4 linked regions of the Homo sapiens genome follow. The protein of the gene in region 2 interacts with the protein of the main gene of each other region in a pairwise test. Each region holds a gene or a part of one and is shown on either strand. Other genes may lie near its edges.

Region 1 (7,444 bases), on a different chromosome or scaffold from region 2:
CGTAGCTGAGCAATTCTCACTATCACGCCCATCCAGTCTCTATGGATCAAGCCAACGATGAACGTTACATGCCAGGCATTGTGCTACATAACCTTCACTTTAATTTTCTCTCGAAATGCTTACAGTAATGCTATAGTTCTAATATTCCCATTTTTCAGATGAGGAAGTCAAAGCCCAGAAGAAGAAAAGTCACTTTTGGCCGGGCGCAGTGGCTCAAGCCTGTAATCCCAGCACTTTGGGAGGCCGAGGTGGGTGGATCACGAGGTCAGGAGATCAAGACCATCCTGGCTAACACGGTGAAACCCCGTCTCTACTAAAAATATAAAAAAAAATTAGCCGGGCGTGGTGGCGGGTGCCTGTAGTCCCAGCTACTCGGGACGCTGAGACAGGAGAATGGCGTGAACCCGGGAGGCGGAGCTTGCAGTGAGCCGAGATCGCGCCACTGCACTCCAGCCTGGGCGACAGAGCAAGACTCCGTCTGAAAAAAAACAAAAAACAAAAAACAAAAAAAAAAACAAGAAAAGAAAAGTCACTTTTCTGAATTGTCCCGCTGGCTGGTGGCAGAAACAGAGACAGAATTAAATCTCCTGATTCCCAGCCCAAGAGTCCTTTCTCTCTTTCCTTAGGCACCCCATCTTCTCCCGCTGCCTCTCCTGGCGCTGCCCCAGGTGCGAGATCAGGAGCCTCCCCAGCAGGGCTTTTCCTCCCCAGTGTCCTAGTGCTGGATCCCACTGTCTGGTCGTGCCTCTTTTCCTGTGCTGGACCAAGGCCCAGATAAGCAGCTGGGGATGCAGGGCTGAATGGAGCAGCAGGAAGAGGCTTCGGGCGGCCGAGTTCATTCAGAAGAAAGCCCAACTCAGAGCTGCCAAGGGCCGAGAGAAGCTTACTGCAGGGCTCTACTGCCCTGCTTGACTTCAAGGGTCCGAGCTCTGACAAACCTCTTTCCCTCTGACTAGTGTCTTTTACCAGCTTCAAGAGGAGGTGTGGATCCCCCGATCCCTGCTGCTTTATTCCTGGGATCTGTGCCAGAACCATCTATAGGAAGACCTGATCCAACCTCTCCCCCATTTTACAGACAAAGAAACTGAGGCTCAGGGAGGAGAGCCAGTGGTAGGGGCCAAGCTCACAGGGGAAGCAGAGCCAGGACTAGAAACCAAGTCTCGCTGCAGTCAATGCAAGCCCTCTGCCCTTATACCCTTGTCTTGTCTGCTGAATTATGCTCTCTCTGCCTGGGACAGGGGCCTTCCTCAGAGCGCAGGGTGACCAGGATGTGCTGCTTAATGGAGAACAGGGAGACCTCAGCCCCCATGCCTCCTTGACTCCGGCTCCTGTCCCTTGGCCTGGTTCCTCACCATCAATCTAGTGGCCTGGGACAGTTTAGGTGGAAGTCCAAGATGCTCAAGTCCTCTAAGGACTTGACTCTTGCCTGGCCAAGTTTATCTTGGTCCTGGGAGGTAGAGGTCAGCAGGTAAAGAGTCTCAAGTGCTTGATCACAGGGTGTGTGTGTGTGTGTGGCGTGTGAACAGGCATGCACACGCAACTGGTGGTTCACTGAAGAGGGGGCTCCCACTAGACTCCCCAAACAATCCACATTTCATCTGGGCAGGCCCTTCTGAACCCAAATATTTTCTCCCATTCTAAGTCCGTGCCCCTCCCCCATCAAGGCCTTAGGGCTGAGCCTGAGAGAGGGAGGGAGGGAAGAAGAGAGAGAAGCCACGTTTCCTTAGGGAGGGAGGGGAAGAGTGAGAAAGAGGAGAAAGACAAGCTCACAGTCGGACCTAGTCAAGAAGACATAGGGAGAGGGAGAAAGTCAGCCAGACTCCAGGAACAGAGGGACAGAGCAGAGATCTAGAGGCAGATGGAGAGAAATGGCTCCCTCCTCCTGAGCCATCACCCTATGTTGCCCTGACCGCCTCTTCCCAGCCCCCAGCCTCAGGTCCCTCCCTGGGGTGGGGGGTCTCTGGGCCTGATTCCCTGGGGCTGCCAGGGTAGCACCCTGAAATTTCTGGGCCTGGCTTCCCCGAGGGGTCGGGTCTCAGGCCCTCTGAACGTTCCCCGGTGCGCCCCCCAGCGGAGATCCAGCCTATGAGCCACCGAAGCCCCAAGGGAGGCGCAGGAAAGGGCGCTGCCACTTTGCGCCCAGTCTGGTCCTGGAACCTGGGGTGGGTTGGGGACGGCTAGAAGACGTGGGTGGAGGGCGGGATTGGTGTCTCTTGAGCTCAGATCCGAGGATCGGACGGACCCGATACCTCGATGGCCCCTTCCCCCTAGAAGGTGGAGGCCAGTGTATTCAAAGATTGAGCCCCCAGGAGGGGCGCTTAGCTCCAAACACATGTCGCTCCTGGAGACCCTGCGCTGAACCCTCTCCCCGGCTCCTGCCCAGTGATGTGTAGTCGGGTCCTTCTAGGGGCCCAGGCGCGCCGCGAGGACGGGTGCCGAGGGGTGGAACGGGAACGGAGACCCTTCATCTTACCGCATTGTTGAGGAAGTCCGACTCGTTCAGATCCCCCAAGTCCAGGAAGCTGGATCCGGGGAACAGCCTGTCGGCCGGGAAGGGTTCCAAGACGGCGTCCATCGCAGCCGGCTCCCGGGACCCCCTTCCACTGGGCTTCCCTCACTCCAGGGCGGCGGCGCGCCCAGTCCAGAGCTCCTGCCTGAGCGCTGGCAAACGGGCGGGGGGCAGGTCCGGGGCGAAGCCCCGGGGGAGGGGCGGACGGAGGCGGCGCGGCCCCGGGTGGGGGGCGCGGGGCGCGCGGGGGCCTTAGGGCAGCGGCTAGGAGCGGGATGGGCTCAGGGGCCCCGGGCGCACCGTGGGCATTCAGCCGACTCCACCTCCTCCTGCTCCTCCTGGGGCACAGCTGGCTTCCATGGGGAGCCCGGGGTTGGGGCTGAGGGCTTCAGGAGCCCCCCGGACAGGGTGGGAGCCGGGGCGGGGGAGCTAAGTGCTCCCCCGAGACTGGGTGGCTGCCGGCCTCTCCTCTGTCTCTGCGTCTCCCTCCGCACGTCTTCTGTCACTTTCCTCTCTGTGAAACCGGGAACCCCTGGCTGGCTAGCCCAGCTGGCCAAGGCGCCACGCCCCCACATCAATATTCACAATAATTTAATATTAATGAGAAGAGGGCGTGGCTCGAGGAATCCTCTCTCCTTTTTTAAAGAGACATCTGCAACTTCGTCTTAGTAATCTCTCTTCTCTGAATGCTCAAGGTGGGGGCTTAAAGCAACAATAGTCCTGGAACCGATAACAGTGTTCCTGGAACATTGGCATTTTAAGGCTTCACCAACCACTGTCCCGTAAATTGATGAGGGAGCTATTTCCATCCTTCCAGCCTTATACTAAAGCCTGCACGAAACCCAGTCAGGGAATTCCATTTCACAGTCCCCTCAACAGATCTCCCCTCAACGGGGGAGATTTTCAGCTTTTTAAAAATTTTATTTATTATTATTACTATTTTTTTGACACGGAGTTTCGCTCTTTTTGCCCGGGCTGGGGTGCAATGGTGTGTTCTCGGCTCACTGCAACCTCCGCCTCCCAGTTTCAAACGATTCTCCTGCCTCAGCCTCCTGAGCACCTGGAATTACAGGCGCGCCCCACCACGCCCAGCTAATTTTTGTATTTTTAGTAGGGACGGGGTTTCACCATGTTGGCCAGGCTCCTCTGGAACTCCTAACCTCAGGTGATCCGGCCTCCTTGGCCTCCCAAAGTGCTGGGATTACAGGTGTGAGCCACCATGCCCAGCCGATTTTCAGCTTGTAACTCTCATTTCTCATCTCACCTGTTTCTTCTTCCAGGAAGCCTTCCCTGAACCCCCAGGCTGGAGCAGTTACCAACGGTATACACCCACAGGGCATCATGTGCTCACCTCCACTGTTTCCAGTCTAATGTGGTATTGTCCTTATTTGCTCACATTGTTTGTATCTGTGACCCCACTGAGCTGTGAGGCTCCTCAGGGCAAGGACAGTCCCCAGCTTCCCTCTGTGTGAAAGGGCTGGGTGAACAGCCAGAGATAGGAGAGTCCCCCTCTTCTCCTCGATAGTCAAGTCCCTCCCTACCCCCCAATGGTTCTGAAGAGCAGGAAGTTGGAAAACAGTGGTTCTGGAATCTGAATGAGCCAAGGTGCTGGCTGGCTGCACACTCCACAGTCACCAGACACTCCCAGGGCCCCGGGATCCATTACCTAAGTGGCTTGCTCCTGCGTACAAACTTAATCTCTTGAAAGGGCTGATAGCAATCGCCAAGCACCTGAACAAATGGAGGTGGTTCAGAAAGGCACTCCCTCAGAGGGCTGGGCACACTGTTTCCTGACCAGAAGTTATTAATAAGATTAAGCATGTCCTTTCTGTCTGGGACGTTTAATTAGCTCAGGAACCAAAGGCCTTTAAGAGGTAGAGATGTCATTGCAGCTAAGCCATGGATGTCACCAAAATTGCTCTCAGCACCAGGTGGGAGAAGGGTTCATACCAAGGCTGAGACAGCAGTTGTTTGCTTCCCTGGCAGGCAGGCAGTCACGTGGCTTTTCCCCACCTTATGATCTAGTTGACATAGTTCTGGAGAGTGAAGTTCTGACCTTCCAGGCTGTCACATGACTGTTAGCTCCCAGGCCTCCTGTAGAATTTGCTCCTGAGAAAGTAGGATTATAACCCATGCTCTGGGGACCAGTTCACCAGCCATGCAACTCCGAGAAGTAAGGCTGGGCCAAAAAGAAATCAATTCACTTTCACAACAGTGGCGGGTAGAATTAGGGTGCTGGGACCATGGGTGTCTTCCCCAAATGCGTCACATCTGGCCAAATGGGGACCATTCAAACACTGGGATGTGGCTGATACTTCTCAGGGGGAGGGGAGGGGTCTCTGGCTGGGTGAACAGGCTATCGTGAGTGAGCTCCAGCAGCAGGTGTCTGGAGTCCTGGCTACTAAGCTATAGTCCCTACAGGCCCCCAGGAGGAGAAAAAGTGGCCCCCCGCCTGAGGTTGGCTGGAAATTGTGCCTGTGTTCCTCCCAGCCTGCTCTGTAATTAGAGACACAGGTACCATTTAAGTGATTGGGGAAGATTATATAGTTTTAGATAAGTAGGATTAGAGTGTCCTCTCTTTCCTTATTCTTACCCAGGTGAACACCCCAGGAAACCATTGAAAATAATCCTGGGGAGCCATTCTGGTTCCAGCAGCTTCTGCGGAGTCTGAGAGGCAGAATCTCCCAAGAGAAATCCTGGGGAAAGGGGTGGCAGGGGGAGGAGGGAGACCAGGCAGTGTAGAGCCGGGCACACAGAGGAGTGTGATCATTTTCTTTCTGGAATGAAGAGGATGGCAAAGTCCAGCAGAGATGAGGATGATCGCAGATTTATTCACACATTCTACAAGCATTATTGAGTACCTACTGTGAATGGTTCCGAGACTAGGCACTGGAGACACAGCAGTGATTAAGAACCTGGATCCCAGAGTAAACGTGTTTGTACAGAGGTGGGTGGGTAAAAAAATGTTAAGAAGATGATTTCAGAGAGTGGTAAGGACTATGAAAAAATAAAATAGTGTGATGTGACTCTTTGGGTAAGGAAGGCCTCTCTGAAGAGGCCACATGTGAACTGAGAACTGAATCAAGAACTGGGGTCATTTATGGGGCAAAATGCAGGGAAAACATTCTAGGCAGAGGGAACAGCAAGTAGAAGAGAAAGAGGAGGAAGGCCGGACTGGGAAGAACAGGCAGTGGCGCAGGAGTGAGATGATGAGGGCGAAACCCCAATGCCCTACACAAACCCCGTACTTATGGCCACACTGAAGCCCAGGCTCTATTCTGTGCCAGGACTGGAAAGAACTGTGCCCACCTAAAGCCTTCTGTAGGGTGTGGTCAGTCACACATCCCTTCTCTCTTGTCTATTAAAGATTTTCCAGGAGATGAAATGAGATGTCTCCCTGGGTCTTAAGTCTGCCTTCTAACCCAGCAGGGAGGGTTTGCTCCCTCCCTCCCAGTTCTTGGGCCTGGTCCCACAACCCAACCCCCCACCAAGGCCCCTCCTTTACATCTGAAGGAGTTAGGGGATGGAGGCCAACGTTGGCTCTGCAAACACCACCTCCACAGGCCCAAATACTGCAGGTCACGAGAGGCACTGATGGCAGCTCCTTCTGTGACGGGCTCAGGAACACCTGGTTGCTGCTCTCCATGAGCTGTTCCAACTGTGAAGCAAAAGCTTCATGCATAAAGGCATCCCAACGCAGTCAATGACGCACAGGAGAAAGAGGACAGAGATAAGCTTCTTGCCTGTTCCAGACACTGAGGATCAGGCAGAGAGAGAGGCTCCTGCCAGGCTGAGCTGTGAGTAGAATGGGGTGTGTGTGTGTGTGTGTGTGTGTGTGTGTGTGTGTGTGTGTGTGTAGAGTCACTGCCCTTCGTTGGGTCTCCGTTTCCATAGCTATGAAATGGGCGAGGTGTTGATGCCCTCTAGGGTTTCATCCTCTCCAAGGATCTTCCAATGTGCCCTTTCCAGGACAGGGCCTGGGGAGCAGGGGTAGGGGTCGGGGGAGTGTGAAGGGCCTCCCCGCTCAGGAGGCCTGGTACTTTGATTATCCAGGCTTCTGCCCAGAGCCTCCAGGAGGGTGCAAGCTGGTGTTTACACTCAGCAGGCAGGCCCTGGGTGGTGATAATAAGGTCACCCAAAGTAAACTTGTCTTGTTTGCCTGGGTTGTAAAGGGAAAAATGCTTTGGCACACTCTAACAGGAACTTCTGAGAAATGAAAACATATTCATCCTGGAGATTAGACTGACTTCCGGGGTGCAGACGGGGCCCTCTGTTCTCTAGCAGCTCCCTAAATTGGGCTGCATGGCTGCTTTCCCTGTGCCCCCCACTGGGGCTGGACATGGAGCCTGAGGTGGCACTCTACCAGGAGCAGGGTGGGTTTCAGAACCCCAGCTCTCACTTAGTTTAGGGCTCTCCTTTCCACCCCTTTGGCCTGTGATCCCTTTCCACCCAACCCTGAACCATAAAAATACCGGACATTTATTAGTACTTGCTTTGTGCCAGGCACTAAATACTTTTTATCATCTTGTTTAATTCTTGGAACAAGCTTGTGAGATAAGTATCGTCTTTCACTGATTCTGAGATGCACATTTCCTCAATGTTTTAACATCTCTGAAATCAGAATGTGTCTTATGATCGATGGTCTGTCATAGTTTAATGGATGATGTTTTTTCCTTCCTGAAGTACATAAAATAGTGGTGCATCATGTAATTGATGACACCTTAGAATCAACATGATATTATTATCATCCCTAATCTGCAGATGAGAAAACCAAGGCTCAGAGAGTTTATATGACTTGCCTCTTCTCGTTTTATAGAAAACCAAGGCCTGGGGCCATCAGAGGCTTGCCTTAAGTCACCCAGCCTCATGAGGCAGATAGGACTGAAACCAGGGCCTCCCGGCTCCGCACCCAGAGCCCTTTCCACTCACCCCAGT
Region 2 (7,032 bases):
GACTACACTGACACTTTTCTTTGAGGTTAATATTATATGGGACTAAATCAATTCAAAATTTCCTCAAAGGGCTATAAATTAAGGAAAAAGAACCCCATTATTTTATGATCAGTTTATTCCTTTCACTTTAAAAATGCCTTCCCTTACTTAAATATCTAAAACCTAGTCTCTCTTAAGTTCTAACATAAGGATTTCCAACACCTCCAAGAAGTCTTTTGTGCTATGCCAGGCTGCACTGACTCTATCATGGACATTATTATGTATAGGCTAGATGGTACAGAGTATTAAGATATATGAGCAATACCTCTATTATGTGTAGGCCACTGTACTTACTGTGGGATTCAAAGCAATCCATGCACTTATAAATTCTTTGGAGAGACAAAATAAAACATATATACATTTTTTTATTTGTCAATTATACCTCAGTAAAGCTGGGGAAAAAAGGAGGAGGCATTTCAGGTAGGAGATATGATTTGAACTGATTTGAACAAAGACAGAAATAGGACTACACATGAAATATTCAAGAAATGCTGCTTAGAAGGCCAGGTAGGAGTTGGGTGGGGATAAAATATTTACATCAAGGGAAAAGGAGGTAAGAACTATTTTCTGGAAGGCCCAGAACATCAGATAGGAGAAAGAAATTAGATACCAGATACAGGTTACATGCTATCCAGGTAGATTATTATCTCATTTATTTCTTACAGCATTAGGATTGAATTAGGTATCACTAGCTAGAATTTTATATATGAGCAAACCAAGCTGGCTGAGTGATATATATAGGACTCCACCCAGGTCTATCCTATAATGAAAGCCTGACCTACTTTTTTCGAAACCATACTCTTTCCCAAGGAGTCTGAATATCTTAATAGGATAGGTGGCCAGTGAAATTCTTCTCATTATCTAAATCATTGCTTAAGGAGATTAATCTGACAGTGCAATATAGAATATGATTATGTATTTTGTGTCCTTATATGAAACCTAAGGACGGGAGCTGGAATACATTTGACCTGTATATCCTAAATGTCTAGGTGCACTGATTAGCATGTAATATTGTCTCCGTATATGTACTGACTGAAGTGAAAATTAGTTTATTATCAACTTGTTAAAAATTTTGTCTATATTTTATGTTCTATCCGAGGTGCTACTTATTGATAGAAGTTTGCAACAAAATATGTTTCTAATTCCAATTCAATCTGATGAAAAGATATCTTCCTCTTATCCAATCCTCCTCATACCTAAAAATTTCTGCCACTTACAGAATTATTGGAGAAATTGTGAAAAACTTCCGTGAAGATGTAAACTGTACTCCATAGTCCAGTTGTTCCCAATGAGTTAGGAGCCTTGCTTTACCCTGGTCAGGAGTTTCGAAAGGTGTTCCTTTCACTGCATGCAAAAATACGTACATCCCCTGGAAAACAAGCAAGGGGTTATAAATGATCAATATTAAATACAAAATTAGTCTTTGTCAGTAGCATTAACGAGGTTCCAAGCTGTTTGTGAGAGTGTGTGATTTAACTGAGTTCGTTTTAAGCTTTCATATAATAGTGAAAGGCTGTAGCCAGTTTCTTTATAATAAAATAGAACTTTCTGGGGTATAAAAATATTAAGTGAGAATTGGTAAAAGGTCAACTGAAAGTAACCTGTTTGCATTTCTATTCGTTAAACTAAAAATAATTATCAGGGTAGCTTCATATCTTTACATTCAGATTTTCTTACACTTTTCCTATTAGGAAATAGGATTACTTTTTCCCCAATGTACAGGAGGTTTTTCTTCAGGGTATATTAGTAAATTTGATGATACTTAAAAAATGATAAAGACATACAAAGTGGTAGAAAACAATAAAATGATTAAAATCTATTGGGAAAAATAGTTTTGAGATATTTAATATGATGACTGCCTTTGCCTTAATAGTTCTCTTCCAAAGCAATAAAAATAGTTTGATATAATAGGTATAATGTTCCACTCAATTCCCTTTTTAAATCGCTATTGTGCCTCAATAGCATTTCTTCTGAAGTCAGTTTTAAAAACTCAAAGCAAATAACATTACTAAAAGCCATTCTGTCAGATCATATGTCTAAACATATAATTTTTTTTATCAATAGGGTAGAAAAAAACCAATCTATAGATTTGGTTTCCTTGAGATTATGATACCCATTTAGACTCATAGGCAGTGTTTCATTCAGGATCACTGCTTGAGGCACTTTATGTAAAGGGATAATGCCTAAATATTATCATGACACAAAGTTTTTCCTTCTAGACGCCACAATGTGATGTCATTTTTCCTACCTCTACTTTTAATGATTATATAGAAAAATTAGGGATTTGAAATTTTATATGATACCAACTTAACCAAGCCCTTCCTTTCAAGGCTTAGTCTACTTCCTAGTTATTCCAGTAGGCAATTCAGAAGTCGTTTAGCTACAATAACACGTAAGCTATGGAGGAAAGGACTCATGTTCAATTGGATTTAACCCATCAAACATTTAATAGGTGGCTTATATGTACAAGACATAGGACATATATGCACATATGAAATTGAATGAGATGTACCCAAGCCTTGGAAAAATTCAATCCTCCAAGAGATGATAAGGAAAAAAAATGCATAAACAGCTAGAAAGTAGGGCAGAAATTGCTATCAAAGGTACAATCAGAATACTCAGCAAATGGCAGGGGAGGGAAAGGTTCCTTGTTGCTGTGCCAAAAGTCTTGATGCTACTTCATTACCTCATTCTTAAAGGTTCAGCTCAAATAACAATTCCTTAGAAAAACCTACCTCATTAGTAATAATTAATCTCCTCTTTATGTAGTTGTATACAATTTTATTGAAAATACGATTACAGTACAATATATCATGTTAGAGTTGTTTGCATGATGTTTGTTTTCCCATTAGCCTGAATACACTCGGAATAAGCACTGGGACACCGCAAGACATTAGACATTGGACACTTCCAACATTAGAAATGTTGGAAGATGACATTACGCCAAGGAGTATTTATTCTGTAAGCTCTACGAAACCATTTTCATATGGACTTTAAAGTGAATTATAAAACAGAAAGTATATGTTTTCAAATCATCGGGGGTATAGGACCCCCAAAAAGTTAAGAACATCTATTCCAGACCACATAGATATTAGAATATAAGAGAATAATCATCCTCTCATTATTTCCTTCAAACCATATGTACTTAACTAGTGTTTAGAATATCAAAACAGTTTATTTTATACATCTTTTCAGTGAAAAATAATAAAATCTTATCTGGCCATATATCTACTGCCCCAATATTTTTTAAATTGTTTTTATGTAAAAATGTTTGTGATTATTATTCCTCCATTAAAAGAATTAGAGAACAAAAGTATGTAGCTCATGCTTAGTCCTTACTAAATACCTACTGAATCAAAATGAATCATTCATTTTTAAAGCTGGGCCAAGAATCCTGTGAAGCATTAATACCTCTAAGGGTGAGGTAGCACTTAATAAAGCAACCACTGTAGGTTTCTACTGTACGGTTCAGAAAGGCAAATATACTGTATTTTTCTAACCGGGTGTAACAATTAGGTCCATTTTCTCATTTTTAAAGGCATTCAATATGTACTTCAGATTTTTAATTGGTTTAATGTGGCTATATTCAAAGGAAACTTAAATTTGGAGTCATGTAATTGCAACTCCGATGGCTAATTAAGTTTTTAGTGTGGTGAACTAATAACAAATAAATCAGAAGTTTGCTTTTCTATACAATGTCAATTACCAATCATTTGTCCATGGTCAACCAACTTGAAACACGGTTAGGGGGTGGTGGTGGTACAGGGATGGCATCTAAACCGTGGTGGCTCACACTCAGCACTTTGGGAGGCCGAGGCGGGCAGATCACCTGAGGTTGGGAGTTCGAGACCAGCCTGACCAACATGGTGAAACCCTGTCTGTACTAAAAATACAAAAATTAGCCAGGCATGGTGGTGCACACCTGTAATCCCAGCGACTCAGGAGGCTGAGGCAGGAGAATCGCTTGAACCCAGGAGGGGGAGGTTGCAGTGAGCCAAGATCGTGCCACTGTACTCCAGCCTGGGTGACAGAGTGAAACTCCGTCTCAAAAAAAAAGGACTAACTTATTCGGCAAACATTTAAATACGTTCTTAGCGATACAAAAATTAAAACATAAAGAGATAAACTGCTAATTATAAAACAATGACAAACACATGATAAAAGAATGCAGCATGGGAGTTGTGTAGATTCCTGGAGGGACAGTTTTGCTGTAGGAAATCAGGCAGAGCAGGAAGGAGGGAGAGGTATTAAAATAGTAGAGACTGGGCCGGGCATGGTAGCTCACACCTGTAATCCCAGCATTTTGGAAGGCCAAGGCAGGTGGATCACCTGAGGTCAGGAGTTCAAGTCCAGCCCGGCCAACATGTTGAAACCCCATCTGTACTAAAAATACAAAAATTAGCCAGGTGTAGTGGCACATGCCTGTAGTCCCATCTGTTCAGGACGCTGAGGCAGGAGAATTGCTTGAACCTGGGAGGTGCAGGTTGCAGTGAGCCAAGATTGCGCCACTGCACTCCAGCCTGGATGACACAGAGAGACTCCATCTCAAAAAAAATAAAAGTAGACCCTGAGTACTATGGCTCACTCATGCTTTGGGAGGCTGAGACAGGAGGATCACTTGAGGTCAGGAGTTTGAGACTAGACTGGGTAACACAGCAAGACCCCCATCTCAATCAGTCAATCAGCTGAGCATGGTGGCACACACCTATAGTCCTAGCTACTTGGAAGGCTGAGGCAGGAAGATCACTTGAGACCAGGAGTTCGAGGCTGCAGTGAGCTATGATCATGCCACTGCACTCCAGCCTGGGTAACAGAGTGAGACCCTGTCTCTGTAAGAAAAACAAAATGGCTGGGCATGCTGGCTCATGCCTGTAATCCCAGCACTTTTGGAGGATGGTGCAGAAGGACTGCTTGAGGCCAGGAGTTCAAGACCAGCCTGGGCAACATAGTGAGAGCCTATCACTATTAAAATAAAAACAAATTAGCCGGGTGTGGTGGCATGTGCCTGCAGTCCTCAAATTTATTGGGAAGCTAAGGTGGGAGGAGCTATGATCACGCCAGTCTCTTAAAAACAAAAGAGTACTTGGTCCAGGTGAAAAGAAAATATAGTAGAAAAGCTTAAGCCAAAACAATAAAATGAGAGCAAGATGATTTTCTTTATTGCTAGTGTATAGCCTCTATTTAGAGATGGTTGAGACAAGGTGAAGTCTCCTTGTTTCTGCACTGTTATCAACTGGTCTTATATGTCACACAAGAAACTTGGATTTTACCATGACTGCAATGGATGATCACTGAATGACTTAGAGTATGACTTGAGCAAACATGCATTTTTAAAACATCACTCTGCCAAGCTGGAATGGAGAAGGGTAGAGAAGCATCAAGAAGACTATTTGATTTATCTGAGTAATTTACTTGAGGAAAAAATGAGGGTATGGGGATCAAGTTGAGAGTAAAGCAGTAGAAGACAGTGCTCTGAGCAAATGGATATGGAATATAAAGGAAAAGAAGTTATCCTAAGACTTAGGTGACCTTGTATTCTTGTTTGCATACGATGGTTCTGATTATACCTAATCTCTTGTAGTAGTTATTACCAAAGCTCCATTTTACTCTCTAAACAGCCTGTTTGGACTATACATTACAGGTTGAGTATTCCTTATCCACAATGCTTTGGAGCAGAAGTGTTTCAGATTTTGGATTGTTTTGGATTTTGGAATATCGGCATATACATAATGAGATATCTTGGGGACAGGGCCCAAGTCTAAACATGAAATTCATTTATGTTTCATATACATCATACACACACAGCCTAAAGATAATTTTATATAGTATCTTTAATAATTTTGTGCATGAAATAAAGTTTTGATTGCATTTTAATTGCAACCTGTCAGGAAGTCAGGTATGGAATTTTCCGCTTGTGGCACAACACTGGTGCTAAAAAAGTTTCTAATTTTAGAACATTTTCTATTTTGGGTTTCTGATTAGGGATGCTCAACCTGTATATTAATTGCTTTACCATTAACATTCAGCTGTCTGGCTTGGCCTTTAGATAAGATTAGTAGTGAAGCCAGAGGATCAGATTGTGGGTGGTAAGGGAGTAATCAGGAATAAGATAAGTTCCATTTATACTTGTTTGGTTTAAGGTGCAAAGTAATCTGGTGATAAAAATAAATAGGAGCATCCTTATTCTACAGGTAGAAACTGAAAATATGGGTAGATGAAGTAACCTAGGTAGAATACATAGCATAAGAAGAGATGAAGAAAAGAACCTTGGGAATAGAAATATTTAAGAGAGGAAAAGAGAAGGAAGACCCCATAAGAAGAAAGAGAAGGTCAGAAATATATGCCGGTGAAAGTGATCCTATAGAAGCCAAAGGAAGTTTCAACAAAAGTGAGATGATTAGTGTAAAATATTTCAGAGAAGTCACTATTTAAAAGAAAACATCGTTTGCTCTTACAAAGTCTATCACATAAAATGGACTAAATGGACACATATTTATCATGTCTACCAGCACATCATTCTTATCCTCCTCCAGTCAACTTCAAATATACTCCAGAAGATAGAAAATAAATATTATTGTTATTATTTGAGGCAGGGTCTCACTGTCACCCAGGCTGGAGTGCAGTGGCACGATCTTGGCTCACTGCAACCTCCACCTCCCAGGCTCAAGCGATTCTCCTACCTCAGCCTCCCGAATAGCTGGGACTATAGATGTGCTGCCACCATGCCAGGCTAAGGTTTTGTATTTTTTGTAGAGACAGAATTTCAGGCTTCACCATGTTGCCCAGGCTGGTCTTGAAATCCTGAGCTCAAGTGATCTGTCCACCTCAGCCTCCCAAAGCACTGGGATTACAGGCATGAGCCACCGTGACTGGCCAAAATAAATATTAATTTTTAAAAATCAATTTCTCCTGTTTTCCTGTCTTAATGCTTTAAGTTCATTTTAAAAAATATCTTTCAACAAATGTACTGCTAAACTGGATTCAATTAAAATC
Region 3 (7,186 bases), on a different chromosome or scaffold from region 2:
CCTGAGTAGCTGGGATTACAGTCATGCACCACCACACCTGGCTAATTTTGTATTTTTAATAGAGACGGGGTTTCTCCATGTTGGTCAGGCTGATCTTGAACTCCCGACCTCAGGTGATCTGCTGGCCTCAGCCTTCCAAAGTGCTGGGATTATAGGCGTGAGCCACTGAGCCTGGCTTTTTTTTTTTTTTTTTTTAAAGATGGAGTTTCTCTCTTGTAGCCCAGGCTGGAGTGAGGTGGCCCTGTCTTGGCTCACTACAATCTCCGCCTCCCAGGTTCAAGTGATTATCCTGCCTCAGCCTCTTGAGTAGCTGGGACTACAGGTGCCCACCACCACGCCTGGTTAATTTTTGTATTTTTAGGAGAGACGGGGTTTCACCATGTTGGCCAGGCTAGTCTCAAAGTCCCAACCTCAGGTGATCCGCCTGTCTCGGCCTCCCAAAGTGCTGGGATTACAGACGTGAGCCACCACGCTCAGCCATCGGTCTGATCTTTCTAACACACACTTTCCTCCTGTCCTCCCCTGCTCAGGAACCTGCCTTGGCTTCCTGCTCAACAAACCCATGAGCCTCTGCCCACCATGAAGGTTCCTGTGACCTGGTCCCACCGTACACACCCAAGCCCTGTGGGCAGTCAGGGTCCCTCAACATCTCTGTGAGTGGAGTCGAGAGAGTCTAAGACAGTCAGATGGGGGCCGGGTGGGGGACAGTGCTCAGGGTGTCAGTGCAAGTAATGGGGTCTCGGGGACAGCACACTGAATGGCAAAACAGGTGTTGTCAAGCTGTGGGGACCCCTTTTCTCCTCTTCCCCCATGGGCTTGAGTAAATGAAATCCTTTTGTGGCCTTGTGTGGGTTGGTGACAGTGTAAGGGACAGGGGATGGAAACGGGGGAAATGATAGATCCTTGGGCAGTGGTGCTTGCTGTGTGACCCTGGGCAGGTCAAATCCCTTCTCTGAGTCTCCAGGTTTTCATTTGTCCTCCAGAGCCCCTCTCAGCTCTCGCATATCACAAAAACCCTTCGTTTCTCTCTCTTCAGCGAGCACCTGTGAGCAGCTGTGCACAGAGGAGTGGGGTCTGGAGCCTGGATAACATGGGTGTGAATTCTGGCTCAGTCCCTTTCCATGGTGTGAGATTTCAAGCAAGTCAGCTGATTTCCCTGAGCTTCAATTTCTCCTTCTGTGAAGCAGATTTAAAAACCCCACTTCATGGGTTCCTGATTCTGCCAGCCGGGTGAAACCAGCTAGTAACATTCAGCCACGTTACTTAGCCTATTTGTGCCTCGGTTTTTCTTATTTATAAAATGAGTATAATCGTGATACCTACCTGACAGGGTTTGTTGTTTGTTTTTTCCAGCTTAGGCTGGAGTGCAGTAGTGCGATCTTGAGTCACTGCAACCTCAGCCTCCTAGGTTCAATTAATTCTCCTGCCTCAGCCTTCCAAGTAGCTGGGACTACAGGAGCACGCCCCCACCCCTGACTAATTTTCATATTTTTAGTAGAGATGGGTTTCACCATGTTCACCAGACTGGTCTCGAACTCCTGACCTCAATGATCTGCCGTCCTCGGCCTCCCAAAGTGTTGGGATTACTACAGGCATGAGCCACCGCATCCTACCCTGACAGGATTATTTCTCATGAGAGTGAAATGCATTAGTATATGTAAGTCCATTTGTATAGTGTGTCCAGCACATGATTATGATTTGCCTTGGTCTATGGGAATATATGAAAACAGAAGTGGCTCAGAGAGGGGTGTTTTGTGCAAGAGGAGGAGGTGGATCTTTGGAGAGAACTGTCTGTGGGTGATGGTTCCTCACCCATCCTCAGTCTTGGAGCCCCTGTGCCCCATATCTTACCTGCAGCCTCTGACCTGGCCTCCTCACCCCCAGCAATAGGTGACTTACCTGCTTTTCACCTCCTCAAATATGCTCTTAGCTTAGCAGGCACCTCCATCATTCTGGGGAGGCCTGTCCTTCTTTTCCAAATGGGAAACGGGCCCTTATCCTGTGCTTGGGAGAGGTTGCCAGGGAAAGTGGGTTGAGTCTCCCAGACACGCTGGCACTCTGCTGCCCAGTAGAAAGATAAATATCACTTTGACAGCTGCTGCCCCCAGGGGGGAGCTCTTCTGAGGGGTGGGAGGCACTTTCCTCCCTTGGCCCGAGTGCCTGGCTTTCTGTGTGTGCCTGCTGGGTCACTTGCCCTGGGGCTTGTCCACGTCCAGAGTGCTGCTTAGCAACCCAGTGGAATTGGGTGACTGTGTCAACAGCTCAGGACCAAAGGCTGCAAGAGGCAAGGTCTACTCACTCTGCCAAGACCAGGGATGGTGACACTCCTCAGCTGCCAGCCTCTTGCCCTCCGTGCTGAGCCTTGCTGTCAGCGCAGACCTCTGACATCTCTTCTCTGAGATTTCCCAAGCACAGGCATTGGGACCAGGAGTCTCCATACGGGAGACCATCCCAGCTGAATGAGCTTTGGGCGGGCCCAGGTAATGTTTCCCAGCAAATGGGGGTAGACAGAGGCCTGTGATGCTGAGGTCAGGTGCGTGGCCCCAGAAGGCAGCCAGCAGGGAAGGGACAGTTCTGCAGCACGCACCAAAGGACCCGAGGCTCACGTGTGCAGTGACCTCCTGAGTCATGGATGTCCCTTTCAGCTGCTCCCCTATTCAGTCACAGCTTTCCTCCTTCAGGGAGACCCAGGACACTTTTCACCTAGAGAACCATGTCTGTGCCTAAAGATGGACAGTGGCTGGGGCCTTCCTTAGGAGTTCCTCTAGCCCTTGGCCTTTTTGGTTACTCCAATGTGTGTGTGTAAGGGGGGACAGGTAAATGTGAGGGTTGGTTAAGAGAGGAGAGGGAGACATGGGGCCTCGGGGAAGTTTCTCCTGTGGGCTGGTTTCACTGCTGGCTCTCACACCCAGCAATACCAATAAAACTGATGACAGTAATTAAGACCATATAATCACCGTGTGTTTATTTATCCCCCAGAAGCCTCCTTTCCCTGGCCCCATGATTACCTATTCCATCCTTATGATAGCTGGTGGGGGTTAACTGTGGCTCCAATAAAAAGCAGTAACTGCCTGTGTTTCCACCCCACATGCCCGGACAGCTTTGCTCCCACCCTCTGCAAGGTGGGGGGACACTATTTTCAGAGGGAACAACAGAGGCAGTAAGCTGAAGATGTCAAAAAGAATGAAACCTCACAGGGCAAGTAGTAGAAGCAGCAACGTTTGCCTTCTTTTTTAGAGCCTTCCCCCTTCTTCCTGGCATCTGCCTCCCTCCCAGAGGAACTTATCCGGTTCCATGGCCCTCTGCAGGGCCACTCAGCCTGCAGCTGCTGATCTCTCAGAAGACTGATCAAGCCAAGCATGTAGCCACCAGCCAGCAATAAATACCACTGGGTGATACCAGGAAAGTTACTTTTCACCACTGAGCATCCTATTTCCTACATGGTTAAAAGAAGTTTGCAAAGACTAAGACCTTGCGTGCAAACGTGCATTACAAAATGGCAATGGTTGATACTACTATTAAGGGCCCAGGGTTATTTGTGTACTTGGCTCAGAGGAATAGGTGGAATTTCAAACTTCTGCTGAAGGAGTGTGGGAGCTGAGAGCTCTACCCAGAATGCCTCAAATCATCGCGGTCAGCCTGCCCCGGAGTCAGGGATCTGGAAAGGCATCCCAGAGAGAAGGGAACCCCTGAAACCTGGTGGGGCAAAAAGTCCCTCAGGTTCCCTCTCCCCCCACACCTCCCCCCTTTCCCTCCTGGACCCACTGGTGTGAGACCCGGACTTGCTGGCGCTCAGCCAAGCTTCCTTCCAGCTCCTGACTGAGCCTGCAGAGGAGATCCTTCCCTCTACCCCACCAACCGCATCTCATGCCTTTACCCGGTTCACAGAGGGGAAAATGAGGCGAGAGGGAAAGACACCGGGAAAAGCCAGTGAAGGGTCGCTTAAACTCTGGAGTCCAGATTTTCTTTGTGTGCCGACCCCCGCACTCCCCCTGCTTTTTTGTTACAGCTTCCCACACGCTAATCTTTCCGATTGGGAAGGTGGCTCCACTGTGGGCCCCACGCGCGAGTCCCGCGGCACATCGCCCCTTTAAGGGGCCGGCCTCTCGCCTCCCTGACCTCGCCCCGCCCCCTCCGGGGCTACACTGCGCCTGCGTGGCAAGCCGGAGCCCTGGGGTTGGGCAGCACTCGGTTCCGTGCAACTTTCAAGTGAGTTGCGAACTCCGCCCTGTAGGCCGGTGCTGGTGGCCCGGCGCGCTGGAACCGCGGCGACCCGCTCCAGCGCGGGACCAGCAGCAAGGGCCGAGCGCCAGGTTCTCCGCGGCAGAAAGGGCGGGTGGGAGCTGTAACTGCCCCGGCCGCGGGGCGCGCCCGCTCCCAAGTCGGCTTCCTCCCCGCCGGGGCCGCTTTGCCTCGGGTCTCCCCATTCTCCAGGTCCCCTGAACTGCACAGTCGGAGGCCGTGGGCGGCGGGCTCTGCCTCCGCCGAGGGACAGCCGGATCGCCCCTCTGCTTCCCGCAACTGCCCTGATCACCCCCCGTCCCAGCCCTTGAGTGAACGTCCTTCTGAGCGGCTTCCTGGGGTCCTCCCCACGTCCCAAAGGCCGGCAAGATGGTGTCCTGGATGATCTGTCGCCTGGTGGTGTGAGTATGGCCGCCCTCAGACCTCCTCTACCCCGGGGTGCCGTCCCGCCCCTGTGGTGGAAGCTGTGGACGTCTAGTGGGAGGAGGAACTTTCTGAGCTCCACCCTCCAGCACTCCATGCAAGGGTTAACGGACCTGTGGGCTTGCACGCGGTGTCTGGGGCACCGCAGGCTACCCGCCCCACCAAGCCTCGTTGGCTGAGAACGACCCCTGCCGCACGCCACACACACTGCAAACAGATGCGTGGAGCCGAGGGCCACAGGCCTACCTTGCTGCCCCTTGGCAAACACAAGGTGATATGGCACGTTGTGGGCGGAGAATCCAGGTGCCTGCTTGCCATCTGAGCAGTCACATGACTCACCATCCTATTCCTCACCTTTGAGTATGCCAACATCTGGCTCACATAGCCCTATCTGCAACCCAGCAGTGTCAGGTCTGGTGACCCTGGGCCTGATTGCATGCCCATGGGAGGGGACAGTCTGGTGTTCTCACCCACTTCGTGGAGTGGCTGTCCTCTCACTCCATCATGCACCCATGGGCCACCGGTGCAGGCCTGGGCAGGCTTGGGATGTTTGTAAACAGCAGGGTGGGGAGGTGGCCTCCAGGGCTCTGACTCAGGCACGGGTTGTACAAGCCAAGCGAGAAAAACAGGGCGGGTACTGCCACCTTGCACCCCAGTGGGGGGAAATGGCCACTTGGCAAGGTGGGAGTGGGGCATGGTGCCCCTCACACTCCCCATGGCTGCTCTTCCAGGCTGGTGTTTGGGATGCTGTGTCCAGCTTATGCTTCCTATAAGGCTGTGAAGACCAAGAACATTCGTGAATATGTGAGCGTGGGGGTTTGGGTGTGTTTAATAGGACTTGGTGAGGTGGGGAGGGTCTCAGTTGGCCTCTCCCTCCTCCAGGGGCAAGGCTGTGTGGCACATCCTGAGTGGAGTGGGGAGGGAGAGAGAATGGGCCCTGTTCAAGAGGGTGTAGATAGAGGGCAGGCCATCGGGGTGCCTGTGGAAGATCTGGTGGGTGAAGCTTGTTGGAGGCGGGCATAGGAATGAGCAGCAGTTTCTCAGAGCTCCTGTCCAGCCATGTGTGGGGGAAAGCAGCTATGCAGCCGGACAGGCTCCCTGGAATCTCTGGGCTGGGCTGGCCTGGGTTGGGAGTTGGTGCTGCAGGCCCCATGCTGACCTCTGGGCGCTCACCCCACAGGTGCGGTGGATGATGTACTGGATTGTTTTTGCACTCTTCATGGCAGCAGAGATCGTTACAGACATTTTTATCTCCTGGTATGGACGCAGGGTCCGCAAGCCATGGGTCAGGGGTGGCCCCCCCAGCCCTGCTCCTTGGCTCACCCTGCCCCTTGTGCTGTGACAGGTTCCCTTTCTACTATGAGATCAAGATGGCCTTCGTGCTGTGGCTGCTCTCACCCTACACCAAGGGCGCCAGCCTGCTTTACCGCAAGTTTGTCCACCCGTCCCTGTCCCGCCATGAGAAGGTACCCCAGGGGGAAGCGGGAAGGGAGGCTTAGGGGTGGGTATGAGGGAAAGAGCCCTGGACCTGGGATTTAGGATGCTGGGGACACCGGGGTTCTATCCCAGTCCTGCTGCTATTGAGGGGCAGGACCTTGACAGGGCCCAGCCTACCTCATCTTCTGGGATAATCAGGTGGGGGTACACATGAATGACCTTTGAGGATGGAAATTGGTTTGGGGGTAGTGGTGGCGGCAGCTGGAGCATGGCCACTCATGGAGGTGTGAGCGGGTGGCAGCCCTGCTCTTGGTCTGTGTTTGTGGCCCGGATTTGTGGCTCTGGGCACCAGGTGGGGCTGGGCTGGGCTGGGTGGCGCCACAACCAGTGGCTTCTCAGAATCTGCAGAGGAAGAGGGACTCTGGCTGTCCACCTGAGCTCTCCTCCCCATTGGGTCCACAGGAGATCGACGCGTACATCGTGCAGGCCAAGGAGCGCAGCTACGAGACCGTGCTCAGCTTCGGGAAGCGGGGCCTCAACATTGCCGCCTCCGCTGCTGTGCAGGCTGCCACCAAGGTGCTCTGGGCCCCCAGCCCTCCAGCAGCCCCCATCCCACCCCTAAGGCCCTTTGGGCTCATTCAGCTCCTCTGCCAGGGAGCCCAGAGATGGCAGCCGGGGAGCAGGGGTGAGAAGGTGACGGGGGGGTATTGGCAGAAGCGTGGAGCTGGAGTCAGACCTTCCTTCCTGGCTCTGGCACTGAGCGTAAGCAGCGGCTCCTGCTCTCTGACTTTGGTTTCCTGTTGGTGCCACATTGGCGCGGGGCCAGAAGCTTGCTGAGCAGTTTTCACTTCTGCGTCTCAGCTCCGGTGATTAGCTGGTTGGCCAATATCCCTGGGCAGCCTCCCCGCTGAAGCCTCTTCCCCCTCGCAGAGTCAGGGGGCGCTGGCCGGCAGGCTGCGGAGCTTCTCCATGCAGGACCTGCGCTCCATCTCTGACGCACCTGCCCCTGCCTACCATGACCCCCTCTACCTGGAGGACCAGGTGTCCCACCGGAGGCCACCCATTGGTGAGCGGGCAGAGGGGC
Region 4 (4,441 bases), on a different chromosome or scaffold from region 2:
CAGGAGGATCGCTGGAGCCAGGGAGGTAGAGGCTGCAGTGAACCATGATCATACCACTGCACTCCAGCCTGACACAGAGCGAGGCCCTGTCTCAAAAAAAAAAAAAAAAAAAGGAAATTTGGACACACAGAGAGACACCAGGGACAGGGACGCTAGTTCATAGAGACCATGTGAGGACACTGAGAAGGTGGCCACCTGCAAGCTACGGACAGGGGCCTCAGGAGAAGTCAAACCTGCTGACACCTTGATCTTGGACTCCAGAACTGTGAGAAAATGAACTTCGGTGGTTTAAGCCTAGTCTGTGGCATTCTGTTATGGCAGCTCGAGTTAAGACCAGGGGACTGTGGGGCCAGTGATAGGGTCTGTGTAGTGAGTTATGGGGTCTGGCGGGGGGTCAGTGATAGGGGTTTGTGAGGTCAGAGGTGGGAGGTCTTTAGATGCTGATGGGGGTCTGGAATAAGTGAATGATGGTGGGATCTGTGGGGTCAGTCATAGCGCATCTCTGGGGTTAGTAATTAAGGATCTCTCAGTGTTAGAGTCAAGATCTTTTATTTCCTGATTTTAAAAATCGTCACCATCATAGACCTCCTGGCTTCTCTTGTATCTGTGTTCTAATGGCTCCCAGCAGTGCCTTCACACAGCCCCTTTATTCCCCTTCTTGTGCCTGCCCATGAGCCTGAGTGTGACAGATCAATTAGCTTTGTCCCTCCAAACTGTGGGAGCAGGACTAGACTCTTCTGGCAGGCAGAGAGCTCCTCCTCGGCCAGTGTTCGAGCCTGGTCCACCACTCCTCAGTTCTTCTTGCTCTTGGCTTTTGTGGCCTTGGCATCCAGCGTGCTCTGGGCATGAGTGAGGTGCTTCACAGCATCAAGCACAAGGACTCCAGGCAGCACCAGCCACAGGGCATTCATGAAGACAAAGTAAAACCAGAAGTAGAGAGGGTGGCCCAGCTCTCCGTGCTGGAATCCGTCGCGGTGCTCTGTCAGGAAGTAGAGCACATCCCCATAGATCTGGCCTGTGGGTGGCAGGAGGGGAAGGAGAAGCCCCAGTGAGGAAGGGGACACTTTCGCCAATTCTCTATTCCAAAGCACTTTCCAAGTCATCATTCAAGGTCTCAGAGCTAAGTATTCTGAAATCACAGAGCTGAAAATCTGAGAAATCAGAAAAGTGAGATTCCAGACACCAGAGAGCTGAGAATTTCAGAACTCAGGAGAGCTCACACCTTCAGATTTAAGGAAGTTCAAAATCCTCAAATCCAAGACAGCTTAGGATTCTGGGACTAAAGATAACTCATATCGCTAGAACTAAAGAAAGCTAACAATTTAATAACACAAGATGACTGAGGCCGGGCACAGTGGCTCACACCTGTAATCCCAGTACTTCGGGAGGCCAAGCCAGGAGGACTGTTTGAGCTCAGGAGCTTGAGACCAGCCTGGGCAACATGGCGAAACCCCATCTCTACTAAAAATACAAAAGTTAGCCAGGCACGGTGGCACATGCCTGTAGTCCCAGCTACTCAGGAGACTGAGGCAGGAAGATCGCTTGAGTCTGGGAGGTGGAGGTTGCAGTGAGCCGAGATCACACCATAGCACTCTGGCCTGGGTGACAGAGCCAGACCCTGTTTTAAAAAAAATATGACAGAATCTTACATGAAGGGATCTCAGAGCCCTGATCCTGGAGGTTCCAGGGGCTTCTTGCCACCCTGGGCCACCTCATGTAACCTTCACAGGAGACTTTGTGATGGAGAAGGAGGAGGAGGAAGAAAAATGAACCCTCCCCACCTGAGAGTGCAGGCTCAGAGAAGGGCATGACCTTTCCAGAGCCTCAGGGGGTTTGTCATTCAGTCTGACTTACCCCTGGAAGGGCACCGTTGAGAGATCCCACCCACAGGGATACATCTGTGTCTGTGGATCCCCCATCAACCCCTCTAGTGCCCAGTGCCCCTCTAGTGCCCTTTCCTTACCCACAGAGACCACAAGCTGTAGAATGAAGCGGAGGGGATGCTGGCGGAGAAAGGCGATCACCACCCACAGGCTGAGTGGTCCCCACAGGCAAGCTGTGATGGTTTCCATGCACACTGTGAAGTTGTCACCCCTGCAGGAGAAAGCATGAGGGGACACTGGTATCGGTGTGCTCTTCCTACAGGTTAGCCCATTAGTGCTCCCCAACTCACCACCCCCCGAAAACCAATGCCAGTCTCCATTGACAGAGGCAAACACTTACAGGATGTATCGGCTGTCTCCCTTGGCATACTCTTTCCCTGAAGAAAAGAAGAGAGAGATATGAAGAATAAAGGCAGTGAAAGGAACACACACTTGTGAGAGCTGGGGGTCCCTGCAAGAAGACAGACTTCATAACCTTCCCATGCGTCTGCTTCCTCATCCGTGAAATGGGGTAACTGTTTGGATTCTAGTGGTTTATTTCTCTAAAACAAGGTAATATGTGTAAAGCCTGACACAAAACAGTGTGGCTGTGATTGGTACTCAAGAAGTGTGTGTGGTATAAAAGGAAGCAGGTGTAGATGATGGAGTGAGTGAAGTAGCCAATGAGAGAGAGAGAATGTAGGTGAACAGATGAGTGAATACAAGAGTGAGCAGAGAATCAGAAAGAAAAAGACCGCCGGGCACGATGGCTCATGCCTGTAATCCCAACACTTTGGGAGGCTGAGGTGGGATGATGGCTTGCATAAAGGAGTTCAAGACCAGTCTGAACAATATAGTGAGACCCCCAACTCTATAAAACATACAAAAATTAGCTGGACGTGGTGGCACGTGCCTACAGTCCCAGGCTGCAGTGGGAGGATGTCTTGAGCCCAGGAGGTTGAGGCTGCAGTGAGCTATGATAGCACCACAGTGCTCAGCCTGGACAACAGGGTAAGACCCTGTCTCAAAAAAAAAAAAAAAAAAGAAAGAAAGAAAAAGATCATCCAATATAAAATAGGCAGAAGACTTGAATAGGTTCTTCACAAAGAGGATTTCTAAATGGCCAATAAGTATATGAAAGATGTTCAAACTTCCATTAGTCACTAAGGAAAAGCAAATTAAAACCATAATGAGATATCACTCACATCTACTGGAATGACTAAAATTTAAGAAACATCTGACCAGCCGGGCACAATGGCTCATGCCTGTAATGTTTTTTTTTTTTTTTTTTTTTTTTGAGACGGAGCCTTGCTCTTATCGCTCAGGCTGGAGTGTGCAGTGGCGCAATCTCAGCTCACCACAACCTCCGCCTCCCAGGTCCCAGAGATTCTCCTGCCTCAGCCTCCTGAGTAGCTGGGATTACAGGCACCTGCCACCACGCCCAGCTAATTTTTAGACTTTTAGTAGAGACGGGGTTTCACTATGTTGGCCAGACTGGTCTCAAACTCCTGACCTCAGGTGATCTGCCCGCCTTCGCCTCACAAAGTGCTGGGATTACAGGCATGAGCCACTCTGCCCGGCCTTGTTTATAATGGCAGAAGATTGAGGGAAAATGCCCATCAATACTACACAAGTCAAGCAACTGTACAATGTCCATGCTTTGAAAGCTCTTTATGAAATCATGAGGAGTGACCTCATTAAAAAAAGCAGCTGGGTGCGGTGGCTCATGCTTGTAATCCTAGCACTTTGGGAGGCTGAGGTGGGCAGATCACTTGAAGCCAGGAGTTGGAGAACAGCCTGGGCAACAAAGCAAGACGCCATCTCTTAAAAAAAAAAGTTGTTAAAAAAAAAATAACTTGGTGGGGTGGCACATGCCTATAATCCCAGCTACTAGGGAGGCTGAGGCAGGAGGATTGCTTGATTGCCCAGGAGTTCAAGGTTGCAGTGAGCTATAATCATGCCACTGCACTCTAGCCTGGGTGACAGAGCGAGACCCCGTCTCAAAAAAGAAAATGGCTTCTTTGGTTTTCTTGTAAGGAAAGAAAGAAAAAGAGAAAAGATTAGAAGTATATATAGCATATTACCATTTGTGTAAAAAGGGAAAAGTGCAAATAATGATAATAATAGTGAACAGTTACATGGCAACCACTGTTTGCCAAACACTGTTCTAAGTATCTTACATATAGTTGGTTATTACTATTATCCTCCTTTTACAATTGAGCAAATTGAGACTTACGTGTGTAAATAAACTGAAAAGAAACATAAACAACTATCAACAGTGCCTAACAGCGTTTGGGGAAACTTAGTGGATAGAAAGCAGATTTTCACTGCAAATCTCTTTAAATGGTTTTTTGACCCACGTGAATATACATGCAACAAAAAAGTTAAATAAGGCTGGGCACGGTGGTGCGCACCTGTCATCCCAGAATTTTGGGAGGCTGAGGTGGAAGGATTGCTTGAGCCCAGGAGTTAAAGAACAGCCTGAGCAACATAGCAAGACCTTGTCTCTACAAAAAAGTGAAAATATTAGCCAGGCATAAAGGTGTGCACCTATAGTATAGTCCCAGCTACTGGGGAGG

Evidence for each region.
Region 1: the proteins of ORMDL1 (region 2) and CREB3L1 interact in binary tests that used the Homo sapiens proteins (3 or more experiments, as listed by UniProt).
Region 3: the proteins of ORMDL1 (region 2) and REEP4 interact in binary tests that used the Homo sapiens proteins (3 or more experiments, as listed by UniProt).
Region 4: the proteins of ORMDL1 (region 2) and EBP interact in binary tests that used the Homo sapiens proteins (3 or more experiments, as listed by UniProt).

The regions. Positions count from the first base shown.
Region 1 is NC_000011.10:46,273,243-46,280,686, reverse strand, and holds the start of CREB3L1 (cyclic AMP-responsive element-binding protein 3-like protein 1), read right to left. Parts: upstream 3,026-7,444; 5' UTR 2,576-3,025; coding exon 2,474-2,575; intron 1-2,473.
Region 2 is NC_000002.12:189,774,309-189,781,340, forward strand, and holds part of ORMDL1 (ORM1-like protein 1), read right to left. Parts: intron 1,409-7,032; coding exon 1,257-1,408; intron 1-1,256. UniProt on the Homo sapiens protein: Plays an essential role in the homeostatic regulation of sphingolipid de novo biosynthesis by modulating the activity of the serine palmitoyltransferase (SPT) in response to ceramide levels.
Region 3 is NC_000008.11:22,138,908-22,146,093, reverse strand, and holds the start of REEP4 (receptor expression-enhancing protein 4), read left to right. Parts: upstream 1-4,186; 5' UTR 4,187-4,611; coding exon 4,612-4,643; intron 4,644-5,396; coding exon 5,397-5,469; intron 5,470-5,845; coding exon 5,846-5,922; intron 5,923-6,010; coding exon 6,011-6,131; intron 6,132-6,564; coding exon 6,565-6,678; intron 6,679-7,032; coding exon 7,033-7,168; intron 7,169-7,186. UniProt on the Homo sapiens protein: Microtubule-binding protein required to ensure proper cell division and nuclear envelope reassembly by sequestering the endoplasmic reticulum away from chromosomes during mitosis.
Region 4 is NC_000023.11:48,524,808-48,529,248, reverse strand, and holds the end of EBP (3-beta-hydroxysteroid-Delta(8),Delta(7)-isomerase), read right to left. Parts: intron 2,261-4,441; coding exon 2,224-2,260; intron 2,095-2,223; coding exon 1,964-2,094; intron 1,016-1,963; coding exon 792-1,015; 3' UTR 533-791; downstream 1-532. UniProt on the Homo sapiens protein: Isomerase that catalyzes the conversion of Delta(8)-sterols to their corresponding Delta(7)-isomers a catalytic step in the postlanosterol biosynthesis of cholesterol.